Linked DNA regions of Homo sapiens: region 1 is linked to region 2. Evidence: fine-mapped expression QTL. A gene starts in region 2. The other region holds a variant in brackets. All regions are shown on one strand. Distances are from middle to middle. Region 1 overlaps LOC124904536 (a long non-coding RNA gene). Region 2 holds the start of IBA57 (iron-sulfur cluster assembly factor IBA57).

Region 1 (15,894 bases), 30 kb after region 2:
GGTATTTTATATTCTTTGTAGCTATTATTATCCATGGGATTGTTTTCTTGATTTCTTTTTCAGATTGTTTGCTATTGGCCATGATCCATTTGGAGGTAATTTTTGTATAAGGTGCAGCAAGGTTTAGGCTGAGGTTCACTTTTTCCCTTTTGTGGGTATCTAGTTGCTCTGGCACCATTTGCTGAAAGGGCTGCCCTTCTCCACTGAATTGGAGCTGCACCTTTATAGAAAGGAATCAGTCTTGCATATTTGAGGGGGCTTTTTCTGGGCTCTCTATTCTGTTCCATTGATATGTGTGTCTGTCCCTCAGTGGATGCCACACTGCCCTGTTTCTGTGGCCATGTACGGTAGGAAGACTCACCAGCAGGTACAGCAATTCCTCCCACTTCCTTTTCTTTCAAGATGGTTTTAGCTGCTGGGGGTGGTGGTGGCTCACATCTGTAACCCCAGCACTTTGGGAGGCTGAGGCAGGTAGATTGCTTGAGCCCAGGAGTTCGAGAGCAGCCTGGCCAACATAGTGAGACCCCGTCTCTACAAAAAAATACAACAAAAACAATAAAAATTAGCCTGGCATGGTGGCAAACACCTGTAGTCCCAGCTTCTTGGGAGGCTGAGGTGGGAGAATTGCTTGAGCCCGGGAGGTCAAGGCTGCAGTGAGCCGAGACTGCGCCACTACATTCTAGCCTGGGTGACAGAGTGAGACCCTGCCTCAGGAAAAACAAACAAACAAAACAAAAAACAAACAAAAAAAAGCCCCAGAAACAAAAAAATAAATAGTTTTAGCAACTGTTGTGCCTGTGCCTTTCCATATAAATTCTAGAAGTAGCTTGTCTATGCCCATGAAAACCCTTGCTGGAATTGTGATAGGAATTGAATTAAGTGTGTAGATCCTTTTGGGGAGCACTGGCTTATTCTGTGAAGTAGGTAATAGTCGTGGCTCTTCATGGCTCCCGTGTGGCCCCGGTGGAGTCCCAAGATCCATGACACAGTCTTCCTTTTCTTTTAGGCTCCGATTCTTGAAGTGCTACCAGATAGGCAGCATCCCTATGGGGTCCTTGCCAACAAAGCCCCTCTGTGACCGTATTGTGGTCTTTAGGTAAGAAAAGACTGGGGCTGTGTGGCCGTGGCTGAACTGGAGTGCCACGTGGCCTCAACAACTCTCAGGACGTCCTCTGGATCCCTGTGGCCTATGTCCTGGCCATGTGCCCCAGAGTTGGTCCTCATGCCTCATGGCCCTGCTTATTATTTCTGCATGGGGAGAGCCAACCTGTGGGGCCCAGGCGTTGTGGGCAAGATCATGGTCCCTTCCTTCACCCAGCATTCAGATCAGGGACAATAACAGGCGTGGCCATGGTCCAGCAGAGGACCAACAGTTACAGCTGGGAGAATTAATTTAATGTGAACGCTGACCTTCCTCCCCTGACCCTTCTGAGAAATCTCAGAGCAGCGTCTTCTGAACCAGCGGCTTCTCTGGTTCATTTTGCTCTGATACAACAGGATGGGCTTCCAGGGCATGAGTCCCGGACGTGAGTCCCGGGCATTTGGCTGCGTTTCTGAGGCTGTGGTCACCAGGGAGCAGCCACGTTCTCCCGACGAGTCCCTGCGAGTCTGAGCCCAGCTTTGTGGTCTCAGCTCACTCGGGGTCAGTTGAGGAGGCCTCTGGGTGGGGACGTACCAGTGCCCATGAGAACGGAGCCCTGTGTGTCTGATGGTGACCATGGGGTGGCATTGAACAGAGGCATGTCCCATGTGCCTGGCTGGAATGCAGGAGGAAGAGTTCTCAGAATTGATGAAATATGAGAAATTAGTTTAAAAAATTTTTATTTTTAAAAATTGTGGTGAAATACACATAAAAAGTACCCTTTTAAACCATGTTTAAATGTCTCATTCAGTGGTATTCAGCACATTCACGGGGTTGTGCAGCCACCACCCATCTCTAGACCTCCTTTGTTTTCCCAGCCTGAAATTGTTCCCATCAAACACCAACTCCCCATACCCTCCTCAGCCCCTGGAACCACCATTCTCTCTTCTGCCTCTGTGACTGTGACGACTCCAGGGGCCTCTTATGAGTGGAATCACATGGGATTTGTCCTTTTGTGTCTGCTGCATTTCATTCAGCATGTTGTCATAGCTCGTGTCAGCATCCCTTTCCTTTTCAAGGCTGAATACTATTCCATCGTGTGGATGGCCGGCATTGTTTTTATCCATTCATCTGTGGGTATACATGTGGGTTGTTTCCACCTTTGGTTACTGTGTATAGTGGTGCTGTAAACATGGGTGTGTTAATATCTCTTCAAGACCCTGCTTTCCATTCTTCTGGGCAAGGCTGGGCATGTTGGCTCACATGTGTAATCCCAACGCTTTGGGAGGCTGAGATGGGCGGATCACTTGAGGCCAGGAGTTTGAGACCAGCCCAGGCACCATAGTAAGACCCCACTGCTACAAAAATAGAATAAAATTCCTCTGGGTATCTATCCAGAAGTGGAATGGCTGGATTATGTGGGAGTTTTGTGTGTCATTTTTTGAGGAACCTCCATACTGTTTTTCATTATAGCTGCAGCATTTTACATTCCCAGCAGCAGTGTGCAAGCATTCCCGTTTCTCCACATCCTTGCCAACACTTGTTATTTTCTGCTTTTGGATAGTGGCCATCCTAATGGATACGAGGTAATTTCTTTTTTATTTTATTATTGTTATTTTTTTGAGCCTGGGTTTCACACTATCACCCAGGCTGGAGTGCAACCTCTGCCTCCCAGGTTCCTGCCTCAGCCTCTTGAGTATCTGGGACTACAGGCGTGTGCCACCATGCCTGGCTAATTTTTGTATTTTTAGTAGAGATGGGGTTTCACCATGTGGCCAGGCTGGTCTCAAACTTCTGAGCTCAAGCTCACCTGCCTCAGCCTCCCAAAGTGTTGGGATTACAGGCGTGAGCCACTGTGCCTGGCCTGGTACAAGGTAATTTCTCATTGTGGTTTGATTTGCATTTCTCTAGTTACTATGTTGAGCACCTTCCCATGTACTTTTTGGTTGGTTGTGTGTCTTCTCTGGAGAAGTGTTTGAGTCATTTGTCCGTTTTAAGATCAGATTGTTTGTCATTTTGTTTATCCATTCATCTGATGCCTGGGCTGCTTCCACCTCGTGTCCATTGTGAGTAGTGCTACTCACATCACCTGGGTGGACAGACAGTTCATTCCGTTTTCAAGCAGTCACTGACAGTGTCGCAACTGGCCCTCCTCACAGCGTCGCAATGTACTCGAGGCCAAACCCAACCAGCCCAGGAAGGACCCCCGGCTGGGGGCCCATAGGGTGCTGGGTCTGCAGTCTTCCACTGTGGGGCAGGGCGGGGGCACTGTTCAGAAACTGTCCTTAGTGGAGGAAAATGACGCTTTTTTCCCTGCAGTCCCCAATAAGCGTTCTGCTGCAGAGAATGGAGGGCCGCTGCGAGGGGATACCAAGTGGTGAGGGTTTGCATTCCTCCTGCAGGCACACAGCCTGCGGGCACATGGCCTGTGGACACACGGCCTGCAGCCCAGGCGCCAGGTGGACGGGTCAGCAGAGGCGTTTCTTGGATTTAATTTCCCGACTGGGAATGGGTTGAGCCCCGTCTGTCCCTCTGTGTATTGGCCACACCCGTTTCTTTCCTGTCCCAGGCCTTTCCAAGTCCCTTGTCCTTCTTGCTGATTTTGTAGGCGTTATCTGCGTATCCTTGTCAGTTCTATGTATTGCCTGTATTTTCTATCAGTGTGAGGCTTGTCTTTCTTTAATGGTGTCTTTTGGGACAGGAGTTTTTAATTCCAGTGCAGTGAACTTTTATTTATTTTTCTTAAGGTTTGTGCTTTCTGTGCCTTGCTTAAAAATTCTTTCCCCGCCCTAACCTCATGATAAGAACTTCTGTAGTTATACCTTTCTATGAATGAATGAATGAGAGGGTATCGTTCTGTCACCCAGGTTGGAGTGCAGTGGCGTGATTATGGCTCATTGTAGCCTTAAATTCTTGGCCTCAAGCAATTCTCCCACCTCAGCCACCCAAGTGGCTGGGACCACAGGCATTGCGCCACCATGCCTGGCTAATTTTTGTAGTTTTTGTAGAGACGGGGGTTCGCCATGTTGTCTAGGTTGGTCTTGAACTCCTGGGCACAAGCAATCTGCCTGCCTTGGCCTCCCAGAGAGCTGGGATTCCAGGTGTGAGCCACAGCGCCTGGCCTGGACCTTTCTTCTGTAGATTTTTAATCTACTTGGGGTTGGTGTGGATGTATGGTGTGAGGTGGGAATTAACATTTTCTGGTTGACATAACTAGCTGTCCTAACACGATTCACTGAAAGTTCGTCTTTCCCCACTGACCCAGGGTGCCACTTTGGTCAGACTCCATGCGTTCACCTGTGTGAGTTTCTTTCTAGACTTCTCATTCTGCTCCACCCTGTCTGTTTGTCTGCTTCTGTGCTGGTACCGTGATGTCTTAATTACTGTACCATAAGGATCATTCTTAGTAACTGGCATGATGCTATCACAAGCTAAGGTCTTCTTCAAATAACATTTTGACTTATCTGTGTGAATTTTCGAGTCAGCCTGTTTACACACATAGTCATGCACACACACAATAGCATTTTGATCAGCATTGCATTAAATGTGTAGGTCAAGTTGGGGAGAACTGATGTCTTTGTGTTACTGAGTTTTCAAGTCCAAAAACATTACATGTCTCTCGCTTATTTTTTTTTTTTTTTTTTTGAGACGGAGTCTCGCTCTGTCGCCCAGGCTGGAGTGCAGTGGCGGGATCTCGGCTCACTGCAAGCTCCGCCTCCCGGGTTCATGCCATTCTCCTGCCTCAGCCTCCCAAGTAGCTGGGACTACAGGCGCCCGCCACTACGCCCGGCTAATTTTTTGTATTTTTAGTAGAGACGGGGTTTCACCGTTTTAGCCGGGATGGTCTCGATCTCCTGACCTCGTGATCCGCCCGCCTCGGCCTCCCAAAGTGCTGGGATTACAGGCGTGAGCCACCGCGCCTGGCCGTCTCTCGCTTATTTATGCCTACTTTAATTCTGCAAAGTTTGTATAATTTTTCTGAAGTCCTTATATATCTTTTGTTAAATGTATTTATTTAAAATAATTTTAATACTGTGGCAAAAGGCATCCTTGCGAAATTGCATTTATCTAATTTTTTGTTACTGATGTTTAGAAATAAATTTGCTAAATTTTAATTGTTCCTAGTAATTATTTTTATATAGGTAGCTTGGGGCTTTTACTTTAGACAATCATATGATCTTAAATTAATGACAGTTTTGTTTGTTTTTGGTAATCCATAAATGTTTAGTTTTTTTCCCATTCCTTTCTCTGATGGGTCAGGTTAAACAGGGGTGCTGGTGCCTCACTTGGCTCTTGATCTTAAAGGAAAGTTCATCATTGTTTTACCACTTGGTCTGGTGGTTGTTGACATTTCTTGGTAGGTACTCTTTTTGAGGTTGAGAAAGTTCTTATAACTGGAAATCCTAGTTTGCTAAGATTTTTTTTTTTTTAAATCACAAAAGTTTGTTGAAATTTATCAGTTTTGGGGAGTATGAATTGAAATGATGATTATGTTTTTCGAGGAACTTGTCCATATCACCTGTTTTCAAATTTATTTTTATAACATTTGATACAGTTTGGATCTGTGTTCCCACTAAATCTCACATTGAAATGTAGTCCCCAGTGTTGGAGGCGGGGCCTGGTAGGGGGTGTTTGGATCATGAGGGCAAATCTCTTTAACATCTAGCTTTGATCCTCTGAACTGGAGTCCTGCATCCTTGAGATAACTCTACACTCATGATGGAGTGAGAATGACAAAGGCAAACAATACCTCAGCATCACCATGGAAACCACTGGGACCTCGGGGGTCATAAGAGGGCCCCAGGGACCCACAGGCTGCTGGGATCACACTTTTGAGAACCACTGCTCTGCTGCTCTGATCAGCTCCTTATACTTGCTGCTCGGTAAGTGTTTAAGGCTGCTCCTGTCCTCAACCCAGCTGGGACCTGTTATTTTTTAACTGGAAATGGGATGTGTATTTGTTGAATAAAATTTAACAGTACAGAAGCACATGGAGTAAGAAGCCTGTCCATTTTCCATCTTCTTGAAGGTCACCATGGTCAGCAGTCTGTGCTCACCTCCAGATGCATCTGTGCTTGCAGACATAGATGTCTCTACTCACACACTTATATCCACACACAACACTTTCAAGTAGCCCTTTTCCCAGCTTAGCTGGGGTTGCACCCTCGATGTTCTGCAGCTTGCCTTTCCATGCTGGGTACAGGTGTCATGATGGTGAATTTTACGTGTCAGCTTCACTGGGCCACGGGATGCCCAAACATTTAGTCAGACATCATTTCTGGTGTATCTGTGAGGATGTTTTTGGAAGAAATTAGCATTTGAGTCAGTGACTGAGTAAAGCAGATTGCTTTTCCAAAGATGGGTGGGCCTTGTCCGATCAGTTGAAAACCTGAATAGAACAGAAAGGCTGAGTAAGAGGGAACTCCTCCTGCCCAAATGTTTTGAGGTGGGACGTTGGTCTTTTCCTGCCTTTGGACACAAACTGAGACATTGGCTCTTCCTGGATCTTGAGCCTGCTGAGTTTCAGGCTAGAATGGTACTGTGGGCTCCCTGGGTCTTCAGCCTGCTGACCGCAGATTTTAGGACTTCTCAGCCTCCATAGTCGTGTGAGCCAGTTCCTTATAATCACTCAGTCTGTTGGTCTGTCATCTATCTATCAATATCTGTCAGTCATCCATCTCCATCCATGTATCCAATCTATCTAGATCCATCTATCAATCTTCTGTACCTACCTGTCAATCATCTATTTATCTTATCTATCCATCCATCCATCCATCTCATGTATCATGTATCTTACTGGTTCATACAGAACCAATGAGAGACACTTATATCCATCTCCTGTTGTTTCTGTTTCTCTGGAGAATCCGGAGTAATACAGGTGTCATCCCCCATCAGTGCATGAGGGTCCACTGCATTTTTTCCTGTGATTGCCCCCACCTTTGACAGACCTGTCCTGTGATTCATTTGATTCTTCCCTTGGTGATTGAGTTTGTTGCCAGTTTTTTTTTTTTTTTTGCCACCATCAGCTGTCTTGAATATTCTGTTTTTAAAAACCTTATTTTGTAGAGACAGAGTCTCCCCATGTTGCCCAGGGTGGTCTGGACCTCCTGGCCTTATGCAGTCCTCCTGCCTCAGACTCCCAAAGTGCTGGGATTACAGGCATGAGCCACTGTGCCTGGCCTTGAATATTCTTGCATCTGTATCGTAATGCATGGGTAAGAATTTCTGTAAGTCACCTGTGTAACAGACATCTTTTTCAACATTTGTTTTTGGTGTCTTTTGTTGGATAGTCATTTTACATTTTAATGTAATTAAATTTATTTTTTTCCTTATTTGGGATATGTGTTTTTTTGGTGTGTCTTGTTGAAGAAATACTTGCTTGAAAATGTTCTCAATTGTATCCTAAAAGAGTTTGTTTTGCTTTTTTTTCCAGTTGAGTTTTAAAATTCATCTCAGCTTAATTTTAAAAAATTCCATCCCCTACTCCCCCTGCAGACCCTGGCAACCATCAGTCTACTTCCTGTTTTTATGGATTTACATTTTCTGGATATTTCATATAAATGGAAGCATACAGTATATAGCCTTTTGTGTCTGGCTTCTTTCACTGAGCATAATGTTTTCAAGGTTCATCCATTTTGTAGCATGGATCAATACTTCATTCCCATCTGTGGCTTACTAATATTCCATTGCATGAATATACCATATCTTGTTTATCCATTTGTCTGTTGATAGACATTTGGGTTGTTTTCATCTTTTGACTATTGTAAATCATGCTGCTGTGGACAAGCAAGCATGTATAAATTTTTGTGTGGACATATGTTTCAATTCTCTTGGGTATTTATCAAGCAGTAGAAGTGATGGATTATATGGCAACTCCACGTTTAATCAGCTTGAGTTTCGTGTATGGCATTGTATTTATTTCCTATATCTGTTGTAATAAATAACCACAAATTGAATGGCTTAAAAAAATAGACTTTACTCTTCCATAGAGGTCTGAAATCAAGGGGTGGGCAGGGTCATGGTCCCTTCAGAGGTTCCAGGGGACGATCCTTCGTTGCCTCTTCCAACTCTCAGTGGCTCCAGGTGCCCCTGGGCTTGTGGCCACATCCCTCCAGTCTCTGCCTCTGTCTTCACATGGCCACTCTCTTCCTGTCTGTCTCTATATCATCTCATCTCTGTGTATGTCTGTCTCTGTGACTAAATTTCTCCTTCTTATGAGGACACCAGTGGTTGGATTAGAGCCCACCCTGAGGACAGCATCTTAACTTCATTGTATCTGCATAGCCCCTGTCCCTCAGTAAGGTCCCATCCACAGATTCTGGGAATGAGGAGTTCAACATATCTTTTTGGGAGGACACCACTCAACCCATGATAAGTGTGAAGTAGTACTCCAGTTTTCTTTCTTTTTAGAAGAAATAAAAGATATCTTGTTATCCAGAACATTTTTCTCACTCCTCCACAGGGTCACCTTGGTATCTAAATGTGTGAGGGCCTGTTTCCAGGCTCTCTTTACTTTCGTTGGCCTGTTTTTCTAACCCCGAGTGACTGTCTTAATTACTACAGCTTCCTGAGTAGGTTCTTAGCACATTCAAGAGTCAATGCTTAGAGAGTAGAGACTGTTTCTTGCTGGGACTGTTTTCTCTGCACACTGTCCTTAATGGCCTGTTCTCTTGACTCTTCTAGATGTGCTAGCCCTGGCGCTGGCTATTGAAGAGCTAGCAGTGGCCACATGGAAGCCCTGGACAGCTTAGTGGTGTGCTCTACAAATGACTCTGTCCAGGGCATCTCCCAACACAGCAGTGGGACAAGAAGACAATGACGGGATGTTGCATGAACTGACCCTCAGAACCCAATGTCCAGGAGAACATGAACTGGGATCTTGAAGTTCTTCAGAAAGATCAGAGTGAGCGGTGGCCCTGAGTCACTCTGTAGCAGTCATGGCAGTGAGAAGAGCCACTCTCTAATCATAATGGAATTGCAAGATTGCCAAATTAAGTCACCCAGTTAATTGTGGCCCTTAATTTTACTCTAGGAATCTGTGCTGTCCTAATCTTAGCATTTCCAGGGAGACATGGCAGCTGTTGGGGGCAGGAGGAATCACCGTGTTCCATGTGACCACCAGGCTCTACAGGCTCTAATTTTAAATTATGACAGGGAGGGAGAAGGCTGAGAACCATGCTGCTGACACTGAGACAAGGGTTCCCAGAGGTTCATTTTCCCTGGACATGGCAAAAAGACTTTGCATAGCCTTTTCAAAGATTTGGCAAATACTATGGGCCAATTTTTTTTTTTTTTTTTTGAGATGGAGTCTCGCTCTGTCGCCCAGGCTGGAGTGCAGTGGCGCGATGGGCCAATTTTTATATGCATTTTCTGGCATTTATTTCAGTGGATGCAGGATAGATTATTAAAATTCCTGCACTTTACATTTTTAAAAATCCTTTTTTTTTTTTTTTTTTTTTTTGGAGACAGAGTCTCACTGTGTCGCCTAGGCTGGAGTGCAGTGGCACGATCTTGGCTCTCTGCAAGCTTTGCCTTCTGGGTTCACACCATTCTCCTGCCTCAGCCTCCCTGGTAGCTGGGACTACAGGTGCCCGCCACCACGCCCAGCTAATTTTTTGTATTTTTAGTAGAGACGGAGTTCCACTGTGTTAGCCAGGATGGTCTCGATCTCCCGACCTCATGATCTGCCCACCTTGGCCTCCCAAAGTGCTGGGATTACAGGCGCAAGCCGCCATGCCCGGCCTAAAAATTCTTACACAGGCTTTGCTTCATGAAACCCTTTATCAAA[C/T]TGTTTGGTCATTTTTTGATTTTCACCTGAGTTGATAATTGCAACTGAATTCATCTTGAACATTGAGAAAACAGTAAGGACCCATGAGAGAATTTTTAAAAGTCAACCAACAATATCCCAGTCCTCACCAGCAGGTGGTTTAAAGCATCTTTCAGAATTTGAAATCAGTTTTAATGATGGTCACTAACATGAATCATGTTAACATAATTTTAAGCATGTTGTACTTAATGTTCTGATTGAGATTTTTTAAAGTTTCTGTTTTAATTGCTGTTTTGGTGAGAAGAAATGATTCAGGAGGTCTGTGCTTTGTTACCTGTACCCACATGGTGCTCAAGGTTGGGTGAGGGAAAGATGAGCAGTTAAACACACAAAAGTAGGAATTCCAGATCATCAGAGTCATTTAATTTTGTTTTGGACAAGAAACGTTTACATGCTGAATCACTCTGCCTTGTTGTTTTTTTTTTTATCCCATTGTCTCCTGGTATCCATTGTTTCCAATGAGAAATCAGCTGTTAATCTCAGTGGGCTGCCCTTGTATGTGAGGAGCTGGTTTTCTCATGTGTATGTTGGTGTGCCTAATGGTGTCCCACATTTCTTTAAGGCTCTGTTCATTTTCTTCATTCTCTCTGTTTTTTAGATTGCAGAATCTCTATCAATCTATCCTTAAGTTCTGACTCTTTTTTTTTTCCCTGCCAGTTAAAAACCTACCATTGAGCTTCTCTATTGAGTGTTTTATTTCATACATTGTACTTTTCAACTTCAGAATTTCCATTTGGTTGTTTTTATAATTTCTGTTTCTTTATTCTGTATTTGATGAGACATCATCATCGTACCTCCCTTTGCTTCTTTAAGTGTGGTTTCCCTAAGTTCTCTGAACATATTTATAATAGCTGCTTTGAAGCCTTTGCAAAGTCCAACATCTGGATCCTCTCACAGTTTATGTTGTCTGTTCTCCCTCTCCCTCCAGTATAGGTCATACTTTCCTGTTCTTTACATGCCTCGTAATTTTAATTTTTGTTGAAAACTGGATATTTCAGGCAATATATTCTATCAACTCTGGATTCTGATTCAATTCCTCCCTCTCTTGGATTTCTTTTTCAATTGTTTGCTTATGTATTTGTTTAGTGATACATATAACTGGGTATTTATCCAAAGGAAAGGAAATTAGTATATCAAAGGGCTTCCTGCACCCCCATGTTTATTGCAGCAGTATTCATAATAGCCAAGATGTAGAACCAACCTAAGTGCCTAGCAGTACCTGAATGGATAAAGAACATGTGGCATATATACACAATGGAATATAATTCAGCCATCAAAAAGAATGAAATCATGTCATTTGCAGTAACACGGATGGAACTGGAGGTTATTATGTTGAGTGAATAAACCAGGCATGGGGGTCATTTTGACCCAGTCTTTGAGGTTTGTTTTGACCCAGGACATTCTTCTTAGCTGTGTCCTGCTGAAGTTCCTCTGGTGAACTAGCTGGCCTGAGGTTGAGCTTGTTGGTCTTAAGTAAGAGGAACAGTTGTTTTCAAGAGCACCCTTAGGGTTGAACTTCCTTTCCCATGTGCTATTTCAAATAAAGTCAGTTCCTATGGGGAGCGCTTTAGAACTTTCTCTCCTTGTGAACTTCTTTTCCCCTTTGGCAAATCTTGGAGTCAGTTTTCTGGGCAGTGGCAGCCTGTGGTCTTCTTGGATTGCATCAAAGACCCAGATATACATGTCCTATGATTCCACAGACCCTGAACTGTTCCAGTAACCCAGCTGTGGAGTATCTGACTGGGAGCTCCGTGACAAGGCTTGGTGGTGTGCAGACTTGGTTTCCAGTAAGATTCTGCAACTATTTTTCTAAAGACACACACATACCTGTTTGAGCGGGAGCCAGGCATGGCTGACCTCCCCACAGAAGGGATAGGGCTGGGTGTCACTAAAGGCCAGGCCCTCTGCTCATGATGCTTTCACACCATCTTAGGAGTGAAGCTGATGGGCATCTCAGATTTGGCTTTCTCTGGCACAGGTAGGATTTAAAAATGAGGCATAGACTTTTCCTATGCATGTGTGACATGCTAGACATATGGCCTTTAAGACCACATTCAGGTCCGGGTGTGATGGCTCATGCCTGTAATCCCAGCACTTTGGGAGGCTGAGGTAGGCAGATCATGAGGTCAGGAGTTTGAGACCAGCCTGGCCAATATGGTGAAACCCCATCTCTACTGAAAATACAAAAATTAGCCAGGTGTGGGTAGCATGCTCCTGTAGTCCCAGATACTCAGGAGGCTGAGGCAGAAGAATTGCTTGAATCCAGGAGGTGAAGGTTGCAGTGAGCCTAGATTGCACCACTGCACTCCAGCCTGGGCGACAGAGCGAGACTCCATCTCAAAAATGAAACAAAACAAAACAAAAACCAAACCAAACAAACAAAAAACACATTCAGAAACCATCAGGGAGATTAAAAGAGGCACAAATACATCAAAACCAAGGTAATTACTGACCCTGTCTGCTGAGGCAACATACAGTGGCATTGTGAAGAAATGCGCTCACTGCAGCAGAAAGCCACTTCCTTACAGAGTCCCATCCTTGGGGATGGGTTTCCCAGCGCTCCTGCACTCAGGTCTCACGTGTCTGTCCCCAGATCTGCTCTTTTCATTCATGATGCAAACTCTGCAGGGTTCTTACCACAGGCTCGCCTTTGCAAAGACAACGTGATTTTCCTTCTAAAGCTCAGCCAGAGCTACCCCTGTGCTTCAGAGGAACTGGTCCCAGCCTTGTGATCAGTGGGCACCGAGTCCTGGCATGCCGAGCCCTTGCCGTGTTGTGATTGGTTGTCTCAGTGGCTAGCTCTTCACTTTCCCCCATTCTTCTTATTGTGTTAAAATACAGAGAACACAACATTTACCATTTTGACCATTTTAAGTGTCCAGTTCAGTGGCATTAAGCGCATTCATGTGGTTGTGCAGCCATCACCATCACCCATCTCCAGAGCTTCTTCATGTTCCAAACCTGACAATCTGTCCCCATGACACACCAATCCCCTTACCCCGACCCGAGCCCTTGAACCCCCATTCTACCCTCTGTCTCCATGTGTATGAATCCTCTGGGGACCTCACAGGAGTGGAATCAGTCTTTGTCTTTCTGTGCCTGGCTTATTTACTCAGCATAATGTCCTCAAGAATTATCTCTATTGTAGATGTTACAAATGTCCTGCTTTTAAAAGCTGAATTAAAAATAAACTGAAGGCCCGGTGCGGTGGCTCCCACCTGTAATCCCAGCACTTTGGGAGGCCGAGGTGGGTGGATCACCTGAGGTCAGCAGTTCGAGACCAGCCTGACCAACATGGTGAAACCCTGTCTCTACTAAAATACAAAATTAGCTGGGTGTGGTGGTGCATGCCTATAATTCCAACTACTCGGGAGGCCGAGGCAGGAGAATCGGTTGAACCTGGGAGGTGGAGGTTGCAGTGAGCTGAGATTGCGCCATTGCACTCTAGCCTGGGCAACAAGAGCGAAACTCCGTCTCAATAAATAAATAAATAAATAAATAAAATAAACTGAATAGCCGTCCTTTGTGTGTATCCACCACCTTTTGTTCATCCACTCATCTGTTGATGGACACTTGGGTTGCTTCCAGCTCTTGGCTGTTGGGAATAGTGCTGCAATAAATATGGGTGGGCCGGCTGCGGTGGCTCACATCTGTAACCTTGGTGCTTTGGGAGGCTGCAGCAGGAGGATCACTTGAGCCCAGGAGGTCAAGACCAGCCTGGGCAACATAGTGAGACCCTATCTCTATTAAAAAATGTTTTAAAATTAAAAATAAAATGGGTGTACTAATATCTTTTCGAGACCCTGCTTTCAGTTCTTTTGGGTGCATACTGATAGATGGAATTGCTGGGTCACATGGGGATTCTACATTTAATTTTTTAGGAACCATCATACTGTTTTCCACAGCGGCTGTGCACCAACTCTTTATTTTAATAAACCTTCTACCATGTAGAAGTGAAATAAATGATCGTATTTAGTAATTATCATTTTTTTCTCTACAATTTACCTTATCTAAAAAGGTAGGATTTTCCATTTTATTTCCCATTTTTGATGTGACTTTGCCTAATTTTGTAATAGATGATTTTAAAAATATGTTTTGTCACCATAGAATAGAATTTTTTTTTCTTTTTCTTTTTTTTTTTTTTTTTGCAGCACAAACAGAAAAACCAAGAGCTTCTACCCCTTGGTCTTGAAATAGAAACAAAATGAACAAACCCATTTCAAATTAGGAGAACAAGAGAATTGAAATAAGAGATCTTTTCCTCCATAATAGCATTTCTTGTTGTCAGACCAGCTTTACAAAGTAGCCTAACATGTGATCTAAAGAGGAACGTGCTGAGGTAGGCCCAGGAGAAAAATCCCAGGAAGACAAAGGCCCTGTTATTTTTATGGTGCAATTTAATACACATGAATAACTTTGAAAATTAGGTGTTTTTCAAAACAGCTTTAGTCTGTTTCTAATATATAAGGAAAATAACTTTCTTTTGTTTTATGCTACCTAAGTGTGTGGTGTCTATCCAATATGTTACTAGGGTACATGTTCACTGTAGCTATTCATGATAGCCAAGATATGGAATCAACTTGAATGTCCAAGAAAACATGGTACATATACACAATGGAGTATTATTCAGCCATCAAAAGAATGAGATCCTGTCATTAGCAGCAACGTGGATGGAACTAGAGGCCATTATGTTAAGTGAAATAAGCCAGGCACAGAAAGGGAAATATTGCATGTTGTCATTTGTATGTGGGAGCTAATTTGCACTATGTAGACATATATCAAAGCATCACATTGTACACTTTAAATATGTACAATTTTTATTTGTTATGCATCAATAAAGCTGGGATTGGGGATGCGATGGTATAAAAACTAACTCTCCTCTCTACTTGTGCAAGTGCAAGATTCTCATCTGGACAGTTGTCTTCAGACTTTTTTGTGTCCTCCTCAAGAATGTTTAGCCTCTTACAGTTAAAAAAAAAAAAAAAGCTAAATTCGAGACTATGTTTGGGTTTCACCAGTTCTTACTCATGTTGATTTCACGGAGGTAGAGAACTGAATGATGGTTACCAGAGGCTGGGGAGGGAAGCGGGAAGGGAGATGAAGAGGGGCTGGTTAATGGGTAGAGACACACAGTCAGAGAAAATGAATCAGTTCTAGTGTTTAGTAGCATGGTAGAGTGACTGTAGGTAACAATAATTCATCATATATAGTTGACCCTTGAACAACATAGGTTTGCACCACTGAGTCCACTTATACGCAGATTTTCTGGAACCAAATGGGAAGGGAACCAGCAGTGTTCTCAGGATGTCAAACCTGTGTGTATAGGGAGGGCCGGCTTGTCCTATGCTTGGGTTCCACAGGGCTGACCGTAGAACTTGAGTATGCACAGATTTTGGTATATGCGGGGGTCCAGGAACCAGCTTCCCATGTATGCTTCAAAATAGCTAGAAGAGAAGATTTGGAGTGTGAAGAAATGATCAGTGTTTGAGGGAATGGTGTCATAAACCCTGACTTGATCATTACACATTGTATGCAGGCATCAGGACATCATATGTGCCCTGTAAATATGTACAGTTATATATCAATAACAAGTAAGTAAAATTAAAACAATAACTTACTGGGGTAGCAGTCAGATTTACTTGCTCCAAATAGATTTTACTTTGCTTCTGATATGCTACTAGAGAAAGTTTACTTTGAAGTAGTGTATTTGTAAGCAACCCAGCTGCAATGAAAGGAGGTATTTCCATTAAAATATGACAGCATGACTTACAGAAGCCTTTAATTATAATTTACCATTTCTGGCCAGGCACAGTAGCTCATGCCTGTAACACCATCACTTTGGGAGGCTGAGGCGGGATGATTACTTGAGCCCGGGAGTTCAAGACCAGCCTGGGAAACAGGGAGACCCCTGTCTCTTAAAAAAAGAAAATCAAAAAATGAGCCAGGCATGGTGGCTCACACCTGTGGTTCTAGCTACTGAGGAGGC
Region 2 (15,894 bases):
AAGACGGTCTTCCTGCTGGTTATGTACGTGGTCAGCTGCCTGTGCCTGCTGCTCAACCTCTGTGAGATGGCCCACCTGGGCTTGGGCAGCGCGCAGGACGCGGTGCGCGGCCGCCGCGGCCCCCCGGCCTCCGCCCCCGCCCCCGCGCCGCGGCCCCCGCCCTGCGCCTTCCCTGCGGCGGCCGCTGGCTTGGCCTGCCCGCCCGACTACAGCCTGGTGGTGCGGGCGGCCGAGCGCGCTCGGGCGCATGACCAGAACCTGGCAAACCTGGCCCTGCAGGCGCTGCGCGACGGGGCAGCGGCTGGGGACCGCGACCGGGACAGTTCGCCGTGCGTCGGCCTCCCTGCGGCCTCCCGGGGGCCCCCCAGAGCAGGCGCCCCCGCGTCCCGGACGGGCAGTGCTACCTCTGCGGGCACTGTCGGGGAGCAGGGCCGGCCCGGCACCCACGAGCGGCCAGGAGCCAAGCCCAGGGCTGGCTCCGAGAAGGGCAGTGCCAGCAGCAGGGACGGGAAGACCACCGTGTGGATCTGAGGGCGCTGGCTTGCGAGCTGGGCCAGGGAGGAGGAGGGTTGGGGGGCTCCGGTGGAAACCTGCGACCCCTTCTCCTCAGCCTTCTCCTTAGCCGGTGGCCTCAGGCAGACTCTGCCCAGAGGGGCAGCCAGGCTGCTCAGGGAAGGGGCTGAAAGCGGCAGAGGAGTGCCCTGGCTTGGTCACCACTGGGGCCAAGGTGGGGTGGAGAGAGGCCTAGGAGCCAGAAAGGGCCCTCTGCTGTGGTCTGAACCCCAGGGGGAGTGGGGCATTGACTCCACCCCTGTCCTGAGCTGGAATAGGTCCTCTGGGATGCCAGCTCTCCCCTTTGTGCTTCCCTGCAGCAACCCATGGAGGGCCCAGGGTGCCTGGTATGGGCATCAGTTGGTGGGGGTGCGGGGGTGCGTGTCCCCATTCCCTGCAACAGCAAATGGGGCTCCTTCTTCAGCCCTCCCCTTCCCAGCCCCAAACTGAGACAGACTGGGAGCTGGGAGCCTGGGGTGGACAGGACCATACCCTCTTTGAGCTTCTGCGATGCCGGCCTTCCGTTCCTCTGGGAGGCTTGAAGTTCTGCAAAGATGTTGATATGCCTTGCAGCTTGGACCCAATGGGTGGTGGTCAGGGCCTGGGGGCTTGGCCATGCTGGGGGAATGGGGCTCTGGGTTCCTGCCTGTGGCCTGTCTGTCCTCCTCCCTAATTCAGACCCAGCCTCAAGAGGAAAGGGAGTAAAATAAAACTAACTTGTTTATAACCTTGTGTGTGCATGTGTATGCATGTGCACGTGTGGCTATGTGTGTGACTGCATGCACATGTATGTGCATTGTGTGCATGTCTGGGTGTATGCTTATATGTGTATGCATGGGTGTGTGTGCATGGCTACCACATGGGGAGACATGGCTTAGCTCCAGGCTGGCTGGGAGAGGAGACCCCTCCCCAGGGACTGGCAGGGGAGTATGGTCACAGGCGAGCCCCTGTAGCTTGTCAGACAACACTCGGGGCCTGCTCGGTGCCAGGCAGCGTGCCGGGGGCAGGGGTGGGTGGGGCAGGGTGGAGTGCACTGATGGTGAGAAAGAAAGAAAACACTCAGAGCCTCAGGTTGGGCCGCAGCTCAGTGGATGGAGGGCGGCTGTCTCAGGCCCCGTCATGACCAGGACGTCGGCCAGAGCCTGCAGGGGTGGCTTTGGCGAGGGGCAGGGGGGCTCATTAGCCCCTGGAGCACACTCCGGGTGACTGGCTACCCCCCAGCCTCCCTTAGGCCTGGTGCAGCCTGGCCGGCTGCCCCTCCTGGGCTGCACACCCCTCTCTCTGTGGTGTCCCTCAGCCAAGACTCAAGCCCAGGCTGAGCCCTGAGTCTCACCGAAGCCCAGCTCCGGGCAGATGCCAACTGCAAGCTGAGTCCCTCTCCTTTCTGGGGCTTGCCTGGCTGACCTCTGGCCCCATGTGAGCCCTGACTCAGGGAGCCACGGACAGAAATGCCGAAAGTGCAGCCTCAGGGAAGAAAAGCAAACACCAACCCCAACAGGTGTCCACTCCAGTGGGGACACACCAGGAGCCTCTCCAAGACAGGAAGGGTTTGGGGCTGTGCTGCTGGCGGTGCCGTCACGGGGGAGGCCAGGTCCCTGTGGTGGGGGCCGCGGTGTCCAGCCATGCTGGGCAACTGTGCATGGCTCACCCTTCCTCCACCTTTGGTTCTGTTCAGGCCTTCACCTGATCAGACGAGGCCAGCCACATTGCAGAGGCCAATCTGCTTTCCTCAGTCCATCTATTCAAGTCTTAGTGTCATCTGGAAATGCACTCACAGACACGCCTAGAATAATGTGTGACCCCATATCTGGGCACCCTGTGGCCCAGTCAAATGGACACATAAAATGAACCATCACAGGCCAAGCACTGTCTCACGTCTGTCATCCCAGCACTTTGGGAGGCTGAGATGGGAGCATCACTTGAGCCCAGGAGTTCAAGATGAGCCTGAGCAACACAGACCCCATGTCTACAAAAAATTTAAAAAGTAGCTGGGCATGGTGGCATGCACCTGTGGTCCCAGTACTCAGGAGGCTGGGGTGGGAGGATCACTTGAGCTAGGGAAGTCGAGGTTGCAGTGAGCTGTGATGGCACCACTGCACTCCAGCCTGGGAAACAGAGCAACACCCTGTCTCAAAATAAATAAAATTAGCCATCACAGGCAGACTGGAGGCAGAACTGCTGCTTCTTTGGGAAACTTTAGTCTTTGGCTATATATCTAGATATAGATATAAAAATAGTATATAGTATCTGTGTCTATATTTCCTATGGTTTTGTTTCTCTGGAGAACCCTGGCTAGTACACATCCCCCAGCCAGAGCTGTTCAAAGGGCACCCCAGCTTCGAGGGAAGCTGGAAATGATCTCAAACTTGGAGGGTGTGCCCGTTGGGACTGCCATAGCACCGCATCATCCACTGGGTGCCTTAAACAACAGACACTGATTATCTCACAGTCCTAGAAGGGAAGGCCAAGATTAAGGTGTGGGCGAGGCTGGTTCCTCCTGCAGCCTCCCTCCTTGGCCCGTGGATGCCATCTCCCCCGTGTGTCCTCACACAGCTGTCCCTCTGTGTGCATCTGTGTCCTAATCTCCTCTTCTTTTAAGGACACCAGCCACCGTGGATTAGGACCCACCCCAATGAACTCATTTTAACTTAATCACCTCTTTAAAGGCTTTGTCTCCAATTATAGCCACATTCTGAAGTTCCTGGAGGTTAGGGCTTCAGCACAGGAGTTTCGAGGGGACAATTCTGCTGGTATTAGAGGGTATATGCCCAGTGGGAAGCTGGATTGCCACAAGAGAAGGGGAGACGGGACCCTGGGACAGACCTCCCTTCTTGAACATTTGGGGGTGGGTGGGCCACATCAGGTTTGTGAGCATCTGCTGGTGGGCTTAGGCTCTGTTACCACACCCTCCCAGCGGGATGGCCCTAGCCAGGAGAGGCTGTGCAAGCCCAAGCCTCCACGCCATCTGCTAGTCCTCCCTCTAAGACCAAGTCCTGGATAATCTGGACGTTCCCACAATGTCATGCCTGAGCCCCACACCACCACGCAGGCCTGGCATCTCCCACTACAGTGGGACGTGGTATCTTAGTTGCTCCAGTCTGCGGACCCCCAGAAGCTAAACCCATCTCGCACTCCTGGCGCTTGATCAGTCACTTTTAGAAAACCCCTGCCTTGGTTTCCCCAGCCACCTGGGGAGGCCACGACGGTGATGAGCTGAGCCTGGCACTGCTGACACCACAGCCCCCCTCCCTCCTCTGTCCTGCATCTTCCGAGCTCTGAGGCAGGTTGGCAGGGGGGCCAGTCGCTGGTGGGCCCAGCCCTGTACACAGCAGGACACACCCAGAGCAGGCGGTGCTGGAGCAGGCTGGCGGGATGGGACTCCATGTCTCACCTCCATCCGTTTCCACAACCTCAGCCAAAACTCTCGGCTGCTCATGGGAGTGCATAGTGGGGTGAGGGGCCAGCTGCTCAGAGACTCCCTCAGAATAGGGCAGTGGCACTCTCCTTCCTCTAGGAAGGGAGGAAGCCCTGAGGCGAGAATAACAGGAAACCACCTTCCCCCAACCCCCCCACAGTACCTGGGAAGCAGGGGCTGCGACCCCTACGCCCAGGCATTTTCCAGTTCTCACTCCCCTGGCCCCTGCTTCAGCCTGGTCCCTGAAGCCAGGACAGGGGCGGGGTTTCCTCCCCCAGGTGCCAGGCCCCAGTCCCCTGCCTGCTGATAAGGAGAACAGCAGCCAGGGTGGCTGGTGTAGAGTCCAGGAAGGCTTCTTGGAGGTGGCCTGGAGTTACGGCCTCACATGGCTCAGGCACTGGAATGTGGCCCCCAGGACTCTGGAGCTGAAAGCTCTGTTTCCTTTGAGTCCATTCGAACTGAAGTGGCCCCTGGTGTTGGTGGTGGCTTCTTTGGGGTGGGGGGGCCTAGGCAGGACAGATTCGGAGCCAGTGGGCCCGGCCCGGGGCACCAGGTTGCCGCACGCCTTTCCTGCTGCCTGTGCAGGGGTGGAAGCAAATTCCTCCTCTGGCTGAGGACCAGGCTGACGTGAGCCCAGAGGAACTCGACCCCCGCCCGTGGGTGTTGTCTGCGCCACTCCCTGCCCCGGGTTTCATCCTGCCTGCCTTCCGCTCTGTCCGCATGGGGCTGCCCGGGGGGTACCGGGTCACCCTCAGGAACGCCAGGCTCTGGCAGAGGAAGGGGTGGCGGCTGCAGCCAGTGGCTAGGGAGCGCATTCTAGGCCTGGCCTATCTCAGTCAGGAAGCTGGCGTCTGGCGGGGGACTGAGGCCCAGGGACCTTGGGGGACCCAGCTGATTTGCTCCAGGCTCCTCACCATGCCCGGAGCCTCGCCTGGTTGGGTAGGCAGGGTCCGGGGCCTCACAGGGCTTGGGGCAGGTGGGGATGCTGTGAGGAGGGTCCAGAAGGGCAAGCGGGAGCTCCAGGGATGAGGAAGCTGCAGTGAAGAGAGTGGGCTAACGGCAGGGCCTCCATGGCCACATCCAGGGCCTGCGGGAATTCGCTGACTGCCCAATGTCACCTGAGCCCCTAAGGCATGCCGGCTGCTGGCCCAGGCCCTCAGGACACGGCAGGGAGCTATGGCAGAGACTTTCTGCTTGGCCAAACTCCGGCTGGGATCTGGAACTTTCTCCTAGGCCCATCTGTGCACTTGCTTGGAAAATCCAGTTTTAGTAAGAGCCCTACTGAGTCAGTTTAGCCAGAACCCCACACCCTGGATATCTCACCCTCGATGACATCCAACCAGGTCCCTCATCCTCCACCATCACCTGGTGACGTCTGATCACCCTGCCTGCCTAGAGCAAGGACCCTGTGAGGTGGGTTTAGCCAGACCCCTCAGCCCTGATGTCTCCTTAGTCATTCCCACCCACAGACCCCACGCTGCTCCTCGGCTTCTCCACCCTCTGCCCTGCTGTGTTGGGGTTGAGCTCCATCTCCCCCAAGGCCGCCAGGCAGGGCCCCACACCACATGATGCGCCTTGGTGCAGTCTTCCTCACTGATGTTACTACGCATCATGAGGAATTTTTTTATTCAACAGATACAAAGACCTCTGCTTGCTGGGACTCTGCACCATAAGGACACATTGAGTAAGTCTTCTTTGGTGCTTTGAGTGGAGGGCAGTGGAGAGGGGAATGTCAACAGGGTGCATGGGCCCCAGGAGGCCAGCAAGGCAGGGATGGCTTGGACCAGGGCAGTCAGACTCTAGGGCTGAAGGCTGCTGGGGCCACCTTGTAGATGTGTCACCTACTACCAGGGAAAGTGGCCACTGTACAGGGCTGCTCAGCAGGGGGTATGGGACATCACTCCTCGAGAAAGCACGGTGGGGTGGATATGTCATAGCAGTGTGTGGTTCCTGCCTAAATTGTCCTCTGTGAGTTCAGCTGTGAAGAGAGGACGAGAGTTATTGGAAGGACGTCCTGTGGTCTGGAAGGACGTCCTGTGGGAGGACAGGCTGGGCTCCAGGGGAGCTTGGAATCCTGCACTGAAGAGGACTATAGACACATGATGGGGGTGACCCTGGCCTGAAAAAAGCAGAAGTTACCAAGGATGTGATTTGAAGCTGTGATTGTGTCTCATCATGTCACACTGATTAGGGGTGCGGAGGGGTTGTGGGCTGGATGGTGCCTGTCCTTATCCGTGGAGACACTTGGGGATGGAGCCTCCTGCCACCTGCAGCTGAAGTCCCAATGGTCCAGCAAATGAAAAAAATGACACAACAGCCACACGTGGACGCTGGCGAACTGGTAGGAAAGAGGAAGCGGCCGGGTGCGGTAGCTCACGCCTGTAATCCCAGCACTTTGGGAGGCCAAAGCCGGTGAATCGCTTGAGCCTAGGAGTTTGAGACCAGCCTGGACAACATGGGGAGACCATTTCTACAAAAAAAATACAAAAATTAGCTGGTGTGGTGGCTAGCGCCTGTAGTTCCAGCTACTCAAGAGGCTGAGGAGGGAGGACTGCCTGAGCTCTGGAGCTTGAGGCCAGCCTGGGCAACATAACCAAGACCCTGTCTTTACAAAAAATAAAAATAAAAATAAAAATAAAAATAAAATGCTGATACATGCTAGACCGTGGATGGACTTTGAGAATACTATGCTGAGTGAAATAAGCCGTCGCAAACGACAAATCCCGTAGGATTCTGCTCCTGTGAGGTCCCTAGAGGAGGCACGCTCATGGAGCCAGAAGGTACAATGGGAGCTCCAGGGCCTCGGGAGTGGGTGTTTAACAGGGAGTTTCAGGTTGGGAGGATGAAGAGGTTCTCGAGATGAGTGACGGTGCCCGACATGGGTGGGTGAAAACGAGGAAGGCCACCGAATGGGACATGGGATGGCGCTTAAGAGGCCGGCAGAAACCTCGTTACCTACCGAGGGTGGAGCCTGCGTGCTGACGGATAGGCCGAGTCCCCGCCCCGAAACACACCCCGCGCACGATGCTCCGCCCCACACGCATGCCCCACCCACCCAGCAGGCACGCTCGCCCCGCCCGCCCCTTCCAGCTCGGGAGGCCCTGCTCCTCACGCACGCACTCTCAGTCGGCCTCAACCGGCGCTGCTCCGCCCCTCAGGCACGCACGTTCCGTTCACCCCTCACGCACGCACTCTGCGCCCGCCCCTTCCCGCCTCCCTCCGGCGGCCACCGCCAGGGGCCGCTGTGGCACCCGCCCCTCCCGCTTCCTTGGGCCCTTCCCGCTGCCCCACTCTTGTCCAAGATGGCGACCGCGGCGCTGCTTCGAGGCGCCACTCCGGGGCGCGGCGGCCCGGTCTGGCGCTGGCGGCTGCGCGCGGCCCCAAGGTGCCGCCTGGCCCACAGCTCCTGCAGTCCTGGTGGCGACCCAACGGCCGGAGCGGCCTGGGCCTGCTTCCGGCTGGACGGGCGCACCCTGCTGCGCGTGCGTGGCCCCGACGCGGCGCCCTTCCTGCTAGGGCTGCTGACCAATGAACTGCCGCTTCCGAGTCCTGCGGCCGCGGGGGCCCCGCCTGCTGCGCGCGCGGGCTACGCCCACTTCCTGAACGTGCAGGGCCGGACGCTCTATGACGTCATCTTGTACGGGTGAGCGCGTGCTGGGAGGGCGCTCGGGGGCGGGCACCCAGGGGAGTGGCCAGGGACCGGCACCCAGGGACAGGGCGGGCGCCCGGGGCCTGCAGAGGGCGTGGGGGGTGGGCACCCGGGGAGGGCCGGGATGGGGTGGAAGCTCAAGGGTGGGTGGGCCAGCGACTGGCACTCAGGGTCAGGCACCCAGGAGATTCCACTTGGGATGGACACCCAGGGGAAGCTCACCCAGGGCCCAGCACCCGGGGGAGGGCACCCAGAGGAGGGCTTGGCTCAACACCCAGGGATGGGTCAGCGACTCATCCAGGGGAGGCCTGGGGGCCAGCCCACCATATCAGAGCAGAGGCGTCTCTAGGTGGGCACCTCCCAAGTGGGCCATCTGGTGACCCTTCTCCCTCCGCAGGGACAAGGGGTTCAGGGGCCCCGCCTGGTGGCAGAGCTGTGTTTCTGAGTGACAGCTTGTGGTGACACTCCCGAGTTCTGTTTACCTTGTGTTTCCCTGTGTCTCCCCATAGCTGGTCACATTGGCATTTGGCTCAGTCATCTGTGCTGACATCACGACTGTCAGTGATGTTCATGCCGGGTCAGGGCCTTGACTGCTTACAGCCTTGGGTTTCCCTTGCCCAGCTTCCAGGGACCTGGATCCCTGAAACCTCCGCCCGGTGGAGTGGATCTGGTTCGCGGCCGCCTGCCTGCTGTCCCTGCTATGGCGGACCCGGTTCTTGTTCTCTTCAGCTTACTCCTGTGTTTTGGTTTCAGGGGATGGACACCTTTTTAATGACTTCCTGAGCTACGTGGGGTGAATTTTTGGACTCATTGTGTCTCTGCTAGTGGCTTTACCTGATATCCTGGCTGGGTGTAAAAATCTAGCTTGGAAATTGTCACCGACAATGTTCACATCACAACTTTGTTTTCTCGCTGCCAGCTTTTCTGAGAAGTCTGGTGCCGTTCTTATTTGTATGTGAACTGTGTTTTTCTCAGAAGCTTTTCTTTATTCTTGATGTCGTGAAATGTCATGCTGATGTGTCTTAGTTTGGGCTTTTTCCATATCACATCTCTGGGCACTTAGTGGGCTCTTTAAATCTAGAACCAGAGTTGGTGAAATACGGCCCTGAGGTCAGACCCAGCCCATTGCCGGTGTTTATAATAAAATTCTCTGGGAACCCCACCCGTTGGATTCCAGGTGGTCTGGGGCTTCTTTTTTTTTTTTTTTTTTGAGACGGAGTTTTGCTCTTGTTGCCCAGGCTGGAGTGCAATGGCACAATCTTGGCTCATTGCAACCTCTGCCTCCAGGGTTCAAGAGATTCTCCCGCCTCAGCCTCCCAAATAGCTGGGACTACAGGTGCCTGCCACCATGCCCGGCTAATTTTTGTATTTTTAGTAGAGACAGGGTTTCACCATATTGGCCAGGCTGTTTTCACACTCCTGACCTCAGGTGATCCACCCGCCTCGGCCTCCCAAAGTGCAGGGATTACAGGTGTGAGCCACTGTGCCCGGCCTGGGGCTGCTTTTGTCTGGAGTGGTAGAGTTGTGGCACGAGTGTGGCCCTCAAGCCTAAGTTATTCACTGGCCCTTTACAGAAAAAGTGTGCCCACCCTAGCTCAATAGGCTTAAATCTTCATGTCCCAGTTCAGAGATATAGTCATCATAGTCTGTCTTATGTATTCATTACATTCTGTCTAGCTGCTTTAATTTCTTCATCTTAAGAACTACATTCTTTGATTCTCTGGAGCCTTCTATGTTAGTACTTTGCTGTTCACATGTTAGCCTTACAATGATGTTGATTTTGGTCCCCAAATTCCCTTCCATATTTCTATAGTCCTCTCTTGTCCTTTTCCCTTTGAGTCCTAGTTCAATTGAATTCCTATTCTTAATAAGTGTTTTGTGGTGTAAAGTACAGCTGACTTTGCACTACATAGGTCACTTATGCGTGGATTTTCCTTCACCTCTGCCACCCTGAGACGGCAAGACCAACCCTTCTTCTCCTTCCTCCTCCTCAGCCTACTCAACATGGAGACCATGAGGATGAAGATGTTTATGTTGATCCATTTCCATTCAGTGAAGTGGAACTACATTTCCTCTTCCTTAGGATTTTCTTCCTGGGATTTGTAGCTTACCGTATTGTAATACAGTATATAATAGCATAAAACATAAAAAATATGTGCCACTTGACTGCGTATGTTATGCATAAGGCTTCCAGTCAACAGGAGTCTGTTAGTAGTTAAGCTTTTGGGGAGTCAAAGCTTAAAGGTGGGTTTTCAACTGTGTGGGGGCCAGTGTCCCTAGCCCTTGCATCATTCAAGGGTCAGCTGTCTGTCCTTTCTGTGTCTCAGGGCTTTTTCCTCTTCATCCTTTCTTGCCTGGTCTGGAGCTTGTCTGCAGACCTACTGGGCCCCAGCTCCCCTTACCAAGCATATGCTTGGTGGCTCCTCTGTGTCTTTCTATTTGCTCTCATTGTGGGGGTCTCTGTCCTCGAGGTCTGCAGGAGGAGTTAATTTTCTTCACTTGTGCTGGGTGTCTGGTGTGTCCGCCACTGTTCTGAGTGCTGAGGGCATTGGAGGCGGCTCTGTTCTTCCCCAGCTCAGCACTGAAGGGTGACGTCATCCAACTCTGGTCTCCCTTCTGAGATGTGACACAACGTCACAGGCCAGGGAGCTCCACTCTGAGGGGTCAGGTGGGGCGGGACCATCCTCCGTGGGATTCAGCATCTGTGTAATAATACTTGAAACCCTCTAGCTTCAGTTCTGTTGGAGTTCATGGCCCTGTTTCTCCTCAGCCGTCAGAAGAGGGACACAACAAGGTTACCTCCTTGAGTGTCTCCCCAGGGGTGGTGGGTGACAGGTGTCCAGATGCCACCCCTCCCAGCTATGTGGCATGGGTGGGCTTAGGGCTGCGCTCGTTGGGCACGTTTAGTTCAGTTCATGAGAGTGTAAACTCTTTTCCTTGTCGGGCTGCTGTTGGCTGTTGACCTCCCTCTCTGTGGTTTGCCCCCTCTGGTCACTCCTCTGGGGAGAGGGCAGCCTGCAGGTCAGGGACCACCTCTCCCTGGAAGCCTCTGTGTGTTCCTGCTTCTCTGGTCATTCCCTGCCCATCATTCCTTTATGGTTTTTTCCTGACTGTAGGATTTTTTATTTCAACTTTGATACTTAATATATCATCCTGAGCCATCGCTTCCTTAAAGCACCCTATTCTTGTTTCCTGAATGTAGCACCTTCTTTCAGATGAAACTATAGTTATTTGGTTGTTGTCTTTTAATAGGAGTTGCTTTTTAGAGCAGTTTTAGGTTCTCAGCAAAAGAGCAGAATGTGCAGAGATTTCCCATATTACCTCACAACTTCCCCCACCAGAGTGCTATTTTCGTCACAACTGATGAACCTCTGTTGACATGCCATCATCACTTGGAGTACAGTTTCCATGAGGGCTCACTCTTGGCTTGGTGTGTTCATGAGTTAGGCAAATGTATGATGACACATGTCTACCATCGTAGCATCACATACAGTAGTGTCACTGCCTTGAAATCCTCTGTGCCCTGCCCATCCATCCATCTCCCCTAACTCCTGGCCACCACTGATGTTTTCAGTGTCTCCATAGTTTCATGCTTTCCAGAATGTCCTGTAGTTGGACTCATGCATCTGTAGCCTCTTCACATTGGCGTTCTTCACTTAGTGATATGCGTTTAGATTCCTCCATGTTTTTTCATAGCTTGACAGCTAATTTCTTTTTTTTTTAGACAGAGTCTTGCTCTGTCCCCCAGGCTGTAGTGCAATGGCGCAATCTCGGCTCACTGCAACCTCTGCCTCCCAGGTTCAAGCGATTCTCCTGCCTCAGCCTCCTGAGTAGCTGGGATTACAGGCATGCACCACCACGCCCAGCTAATTTTTGTATCTTTTTTTAGTAGAGACGGGGTTTCACCATGTTGGTCAGGCTGGTCTCGAACTACTGACCTCATGATCCGCCCGCCTCGGCCTCCCAAAGTGCTGGGATTACAGGCGTGAGCCACGGCGCCCGGCCGACAGCTAATTTCTTTTAGTACTGGTTAGTATTCCATTGGATGGACCACAGTTTATTTGTCCACTCATCTACTGAGGGACATATTGGTTGCTTCCAAGTTTTGGCAATTATGGATAAAGCTGCTGTAAACATCCATGTGCAGATTTTCATATGGGTCTGAGTTTTTTTGTTTTTATTTTTTAGACACAGGGTCTCGCTCCATTGCCCAGGCTGGAGTGCAGTGGCACAGTTGTAGCTCACTGTACCTTCAAACTCCTGGGCTCAAGTGATCCTCCCACCTCAGCCTCCCAAGTAGCCAGGACTACAGGTAGTTGAGGTCTCACTATGTTGCTCGGGCTGGTCTTGAACTCCTGGGCTCAGGCGATTCTCCTGCCTCAGCTTCACAAAGTGTTGGGATTGCGGGCATGAGCCACCATGCCTGGCCTCCTTAGGGTCCCTTTCTATCAGTTGGTTTTGATCTCTCTTCATGTAGGAGGCAGAGAGAGGCTGTAGGGTCATGTTGCAGGTAGGATTGTGGTCCAGTGGCCTTGCTGCGAGCTGGCCGGGGCAAGGATGTGGACTCAGTGCAGGGCTCAGCAGGCCCAAGAGTGTCAGGGCTGTGGCCTTGTGTCTGGCCAGCACTGAGGAGCAGGAGAGACTTGTCAGGCCTCTGGTGGCCTGGGGAGGAGGGAGGAGAGAGAAGGGAAGGAGTCAGGCCGGGTCCCAGAGCAGTGTTTTCCTGAACATGACTGGAAACCCTTGGATCTGATGGCCAGGGGACCCTTTCTTTCAGTTGGCTGGGCCAGAGCCACCCCTGACCTCCCTCCTCTTCCTGCACCCTTGCTCCCACCGGGGCTTCTGGGCTCAGCAAACAAAAGCACAGGACACCCAGGTCCGTCTCAGACGAGCAACGGATGATCTGTAGGTGCATCCTATGCGGTATTTGGGATATACTAAAAAAAGTAATTTGTTGTCGATGTGAAATTCTGATTTAACCAGGTACCCTATATTTTCTTTGGCAACCCTGTCCCCTGCGCCCCTCAGCGGTATCTGGAAATATTTTTGGTTGTCATGATGGGGTGGGGTACAGGCCAGGGGTGCTGCTTAGCATCTGGACAGCCCCCACTATGGAGAATGATGAGGCTGAGAAAGCTCCCCAGGCCGGGGCTCTCCTGTGAGGCAAGTCTCCTGGCAGTCTTCAGGTGTGGCAGGGGTTGGGGTGGGCCCGGGGGTCATGTCCCAGCTCAGCTGGTCCTGAGAAGCTGCCTGGTAGACAGTCACCGGCACAGAGAGCTGGAAAGTGCCCTCGACCCCAGAACCTGGGTCCTGTGAGGACATCCACCCTGTGTGAGGCCAGGGAGTGCTCAGCAGATGGGGGCAGCAGGGGGTGTCAGCATGGGTGGGGGTTCCTGCCAAGGCAGGCAGCTGAGCTGGCCCCACCTCAGAGTGCAGGGGCCCTCAGCTTGATCTTTTCTGGGCTCCACTCTTGACTGATGGACCCATGGGGCACCCTGGCCCCACCCTGCCTGCCTTGCCCCAGCTCCTGCCCTTGCCCTGTAGGGCTCTGCGGCCTCCCCTGTGCCTGTGTGCCTGGCTCACTAGACCCTGGACCTGTGGTCCCTCAGCTCCACTCTAGTCCCCTTACTCTGTCCCTCTACTGCCTGGCGTCGCTCAGCTCCTCCCTGCCTGTCCGGCGCCCAGCATCCTGTGCCCATGACCTCACATCTGTCCCTCTGCCCGGGTCCCCCACTCACCTGTGTTTTGGTCCATCTTTGTCTGCTGACCCCACTATAGATTTTAAAAATACAAATATGCATGCACGTGGTTAAAAACTCGCTGATGTCAGATGGCTGGGATGAAAGGACTGCCTGCTGCCTTTCCTCTTGTAGTGCTCGGACACCTCTGCAGGCGAAGCTCCTTGTTTTTTTTTTTTGTTGTTGTTGTTGTTGTTTTTTCACTTCTTATTTTGAAATAATTATAGATTCACAGGAAGTTGCAAAAAAAAAAACAAAACAAAACCCGTGGGAGAGATCGCACGGACCCCTCCCCAGTTCCCCTGATTGCACACACAGGGCATATCTGGGGTCTCTGGATTTGTGTGTCTTACTTTGTGCGTCTGTGCACGCATGTGTATAACTGCAGTTTTATCACGTGTGAATATCTGTGGCCATTCTCAGGCCCACGCGGCTTCCTGCTCCTGCCCCTGAATGGGCACCCCCAACACCCCAAAACCTGTTCTCAGCTGTAAAATCGTGTCATTTCAGGAGTGTCATAGATGGATGCATCGGCCTGTCACTTTTTAGCCTTACCCTTTTCCCTCACCATAGTGCCCTCAGATCCACCCACTTCTGTCCATCTCCAGCTCCCTGTTCTTGCTGAGAAGTCCCACATGGTGTAGTGGCACCTTGATTCTCCCTTTCTGGCTGTTACCAGTATAGCTGGCTGCTGTGAGCTTTCGCTGCAGGTTTTGTGTGAGCTGCAGTCTTCGTTTCTCAGTGATCCATGCCCGGAAGTGAGAGGGCCAGGTCGTGGAGTAGTTGCTTGTTTGGTGTTGTGAGGACCTGCACCCTGTCTTCCAGAGGGCCACCCGTTTTGCCTCCCCACCAGCAGCATGCCAGTGACCTGGTTTCTCCTCATGCTGGCCAGTGTTCAGGTTCACCACTGCATCTGTCTGGGCCACATCGCCTGTGTTTCCCTGGTGGCGTGGTGACCTTTCCGCGGCACACCTGCGGCTGCCCCTCTGTGCTGTCCTTGCTGTTCCTCCCGTCATCTTAGCCCACGTGTGTAAATGACATATGTTCCCCTCCCTTGTGGGTGTTGTTTTTGATGTCCTGTGACCGCTGTCCTGGAGTGTGGGCCAGATTCACTGGCTGTCACAGCTGGCTATGCCCACCCTCCCTGCGGCAGGGTCCTCAGTGAGACCTGTGCCTACTGGTTCTGGGTGATGAGCGTGAACGTTCTCCGTGGCTGCTGGCACGTGGGCATGACCACAGGGTAGAGTGAGACTGCAGAGATGAGGGCAGCAGGCCCCTGCTTGGCACCTGAAGCCCTGGGCAACTGGCAAGGACTGAGCCCTCTCCTGGCTGGAAGGGGCTGGGCCACCTGCTCTTGGGCTTGTCTCTGGAAGGCCCTCTGGGGGTCTTACTACCTCCCTGTCTCAGCTCCCACCAGCCTGTGAAGCCCTGTGCAGTCCATACCTGCAATCAACCCCAGCCATGGAGGTGGCTGTACCCCAGGTGTCTCCACTTAGTGCCCCCCCCCCCGACATGCCCCACGCTGCCCAGCCTCTCCTCTTCCCACCATCCGTCTGGTCAGGGGTCATTCTTGTGGTGCCTGCCCAAATCCTCTGAGGAGGGCTGCCTGGAGTGCAGGTCAGAATGGCTCTGGGGCCCCGATTGGGTTCTGAGACTTGGCTTGGGGAGGCAGGTGGTGGGCATGGGCAGAGTGGGCCTCAGGCATGCTGTACCTCCCTGACAACCTCCTGGGCTCCTTGCTCCTCCCTCCTGCCCACCTTAGGACCCTTGGGCTCCTCGATGGCTTCCCTGGGCTGGAACAGGCAGGTCTGGTTCTCAGTGGCTGTGCACACCGTTCCCCTGCGGGGCCCTGCCCATCCCTGCTCCCACATCCAGCGGACTGTTGTCATTTCTGCCCTAGGCTCTGGGACTACTCCGGATGATGCCCTCGGGCAGGCTATTGCAGTTCTGCCAGTCCCTGGGCAAACAGGGTCTGTCTGCGCTGGCCCCTGTGAGCTCGTCTTTGCCTGCTTAGACGAGAGCTCCGGAGGCTCAGCTGCGCACGGCTGTGGGCAGGGCTTTCCATGCGCTGGTCCAGGTGTACCCTGCCTGGCCTGCTGTGCGTTGTCTGCACGCACCCTCGCATTGCTGTGGGCGCGGCACTCTGCGCTGGTCTCCAAGGTGCCCGCATCTAGCTGTGATGCGCGCCTTGGGAGGTGCTGCCTGGTGTGGCTGTGGGCGTGGCTCGCTGTGGGCGTGGCTCGCTGTGGGCGTGGCTCGCTGTGGGCGTGGCTCGCTGTGGGCGTGGCTCGCTGTGGGCGTGGCTCGCTGTGGGCGTGGCTCGCTGTGGGCGTGGCTCGCTGTGGGCGTGGCTCGCTGTGGGCGTGGCTCGCTGTGGGCGTGGCTCGCTGTGGGCGTGGCTCGCTGTGGGCGTGGCTCGCTGTGGGCGTGGCTCGCTGTGGGCGTGGCTCGCTGTGGGCGTGGCTCGCTGTGGGCGTGGCTCGCTGTGGGCGTGGCTCGCTGTGGGCGTGGCTCGCTGTGGGCGTGGCTCGCTGTGGGCG

The links.
Region 1: its variant is fine-mapped to the expression of IBA57 in whole blood (INTERVAL, PIP above 0.99).

Annotation. Positions count from the first base shown.
Region 1 is chr1:228,188,804-228,204,697 of GRCh38, forward strand. It overlaps LOC124904536 (a long non-coding RNA gene), which reads left to right. Exons shown (of 2, transcript XR_007066917.1): 1 at 1-5,964; 2 at 8,765-14,777. OBSCN-AS1 (OBSCN antisense RNA 1) reads right to left here. Exons shown (of 2, transcript NR_073155.1): 2 at 14,703-15,352. Among named protein-coding and RNA genes, the nearest start is that of OBSCN, 11 kb to the right of the region's middle. RefSeq lists an enhancer at 4,382-4,882. The variant C/T (reference allele first, on the strand shown) is at 9,870.
Region 2 is chr1:228,158,548-228,174,441 of GRCh38, forward strand. IBA57 (iron-sulfur cluster assembly factor IBA57) reads left to right here and starts at 7,257. Exons shown (of 3, transcript NM_001010867.4): 1 at 7,257-7,610. The coding sequence starts at 7,270. IBA57-DT (IBA57 divergent transcript) reads right to left here and starts at 6,965. Exons shown (of 2, transcript NR_103540.1): 1 at 6,927-6,965; 2 at 5,539-5,945. It overlaps LOC124904534 (a long non-coding RNA gene), which reads left to right and starts at 2,647. Exons shown (of 2, transcript XR_007066913.1): 1 at 2,647-4,906; 2 at 5,603-6,635. It overlaps GJC2 (gap junction protein gamma 2), which reads left to right. Exons shown (of 2, transcript NM_020435.4): 2 at 1-1,279. The coding sequence ends at 531. RefSeq lists an enhancer at 6,842-7,744 and a silencer at 6,849-7,888.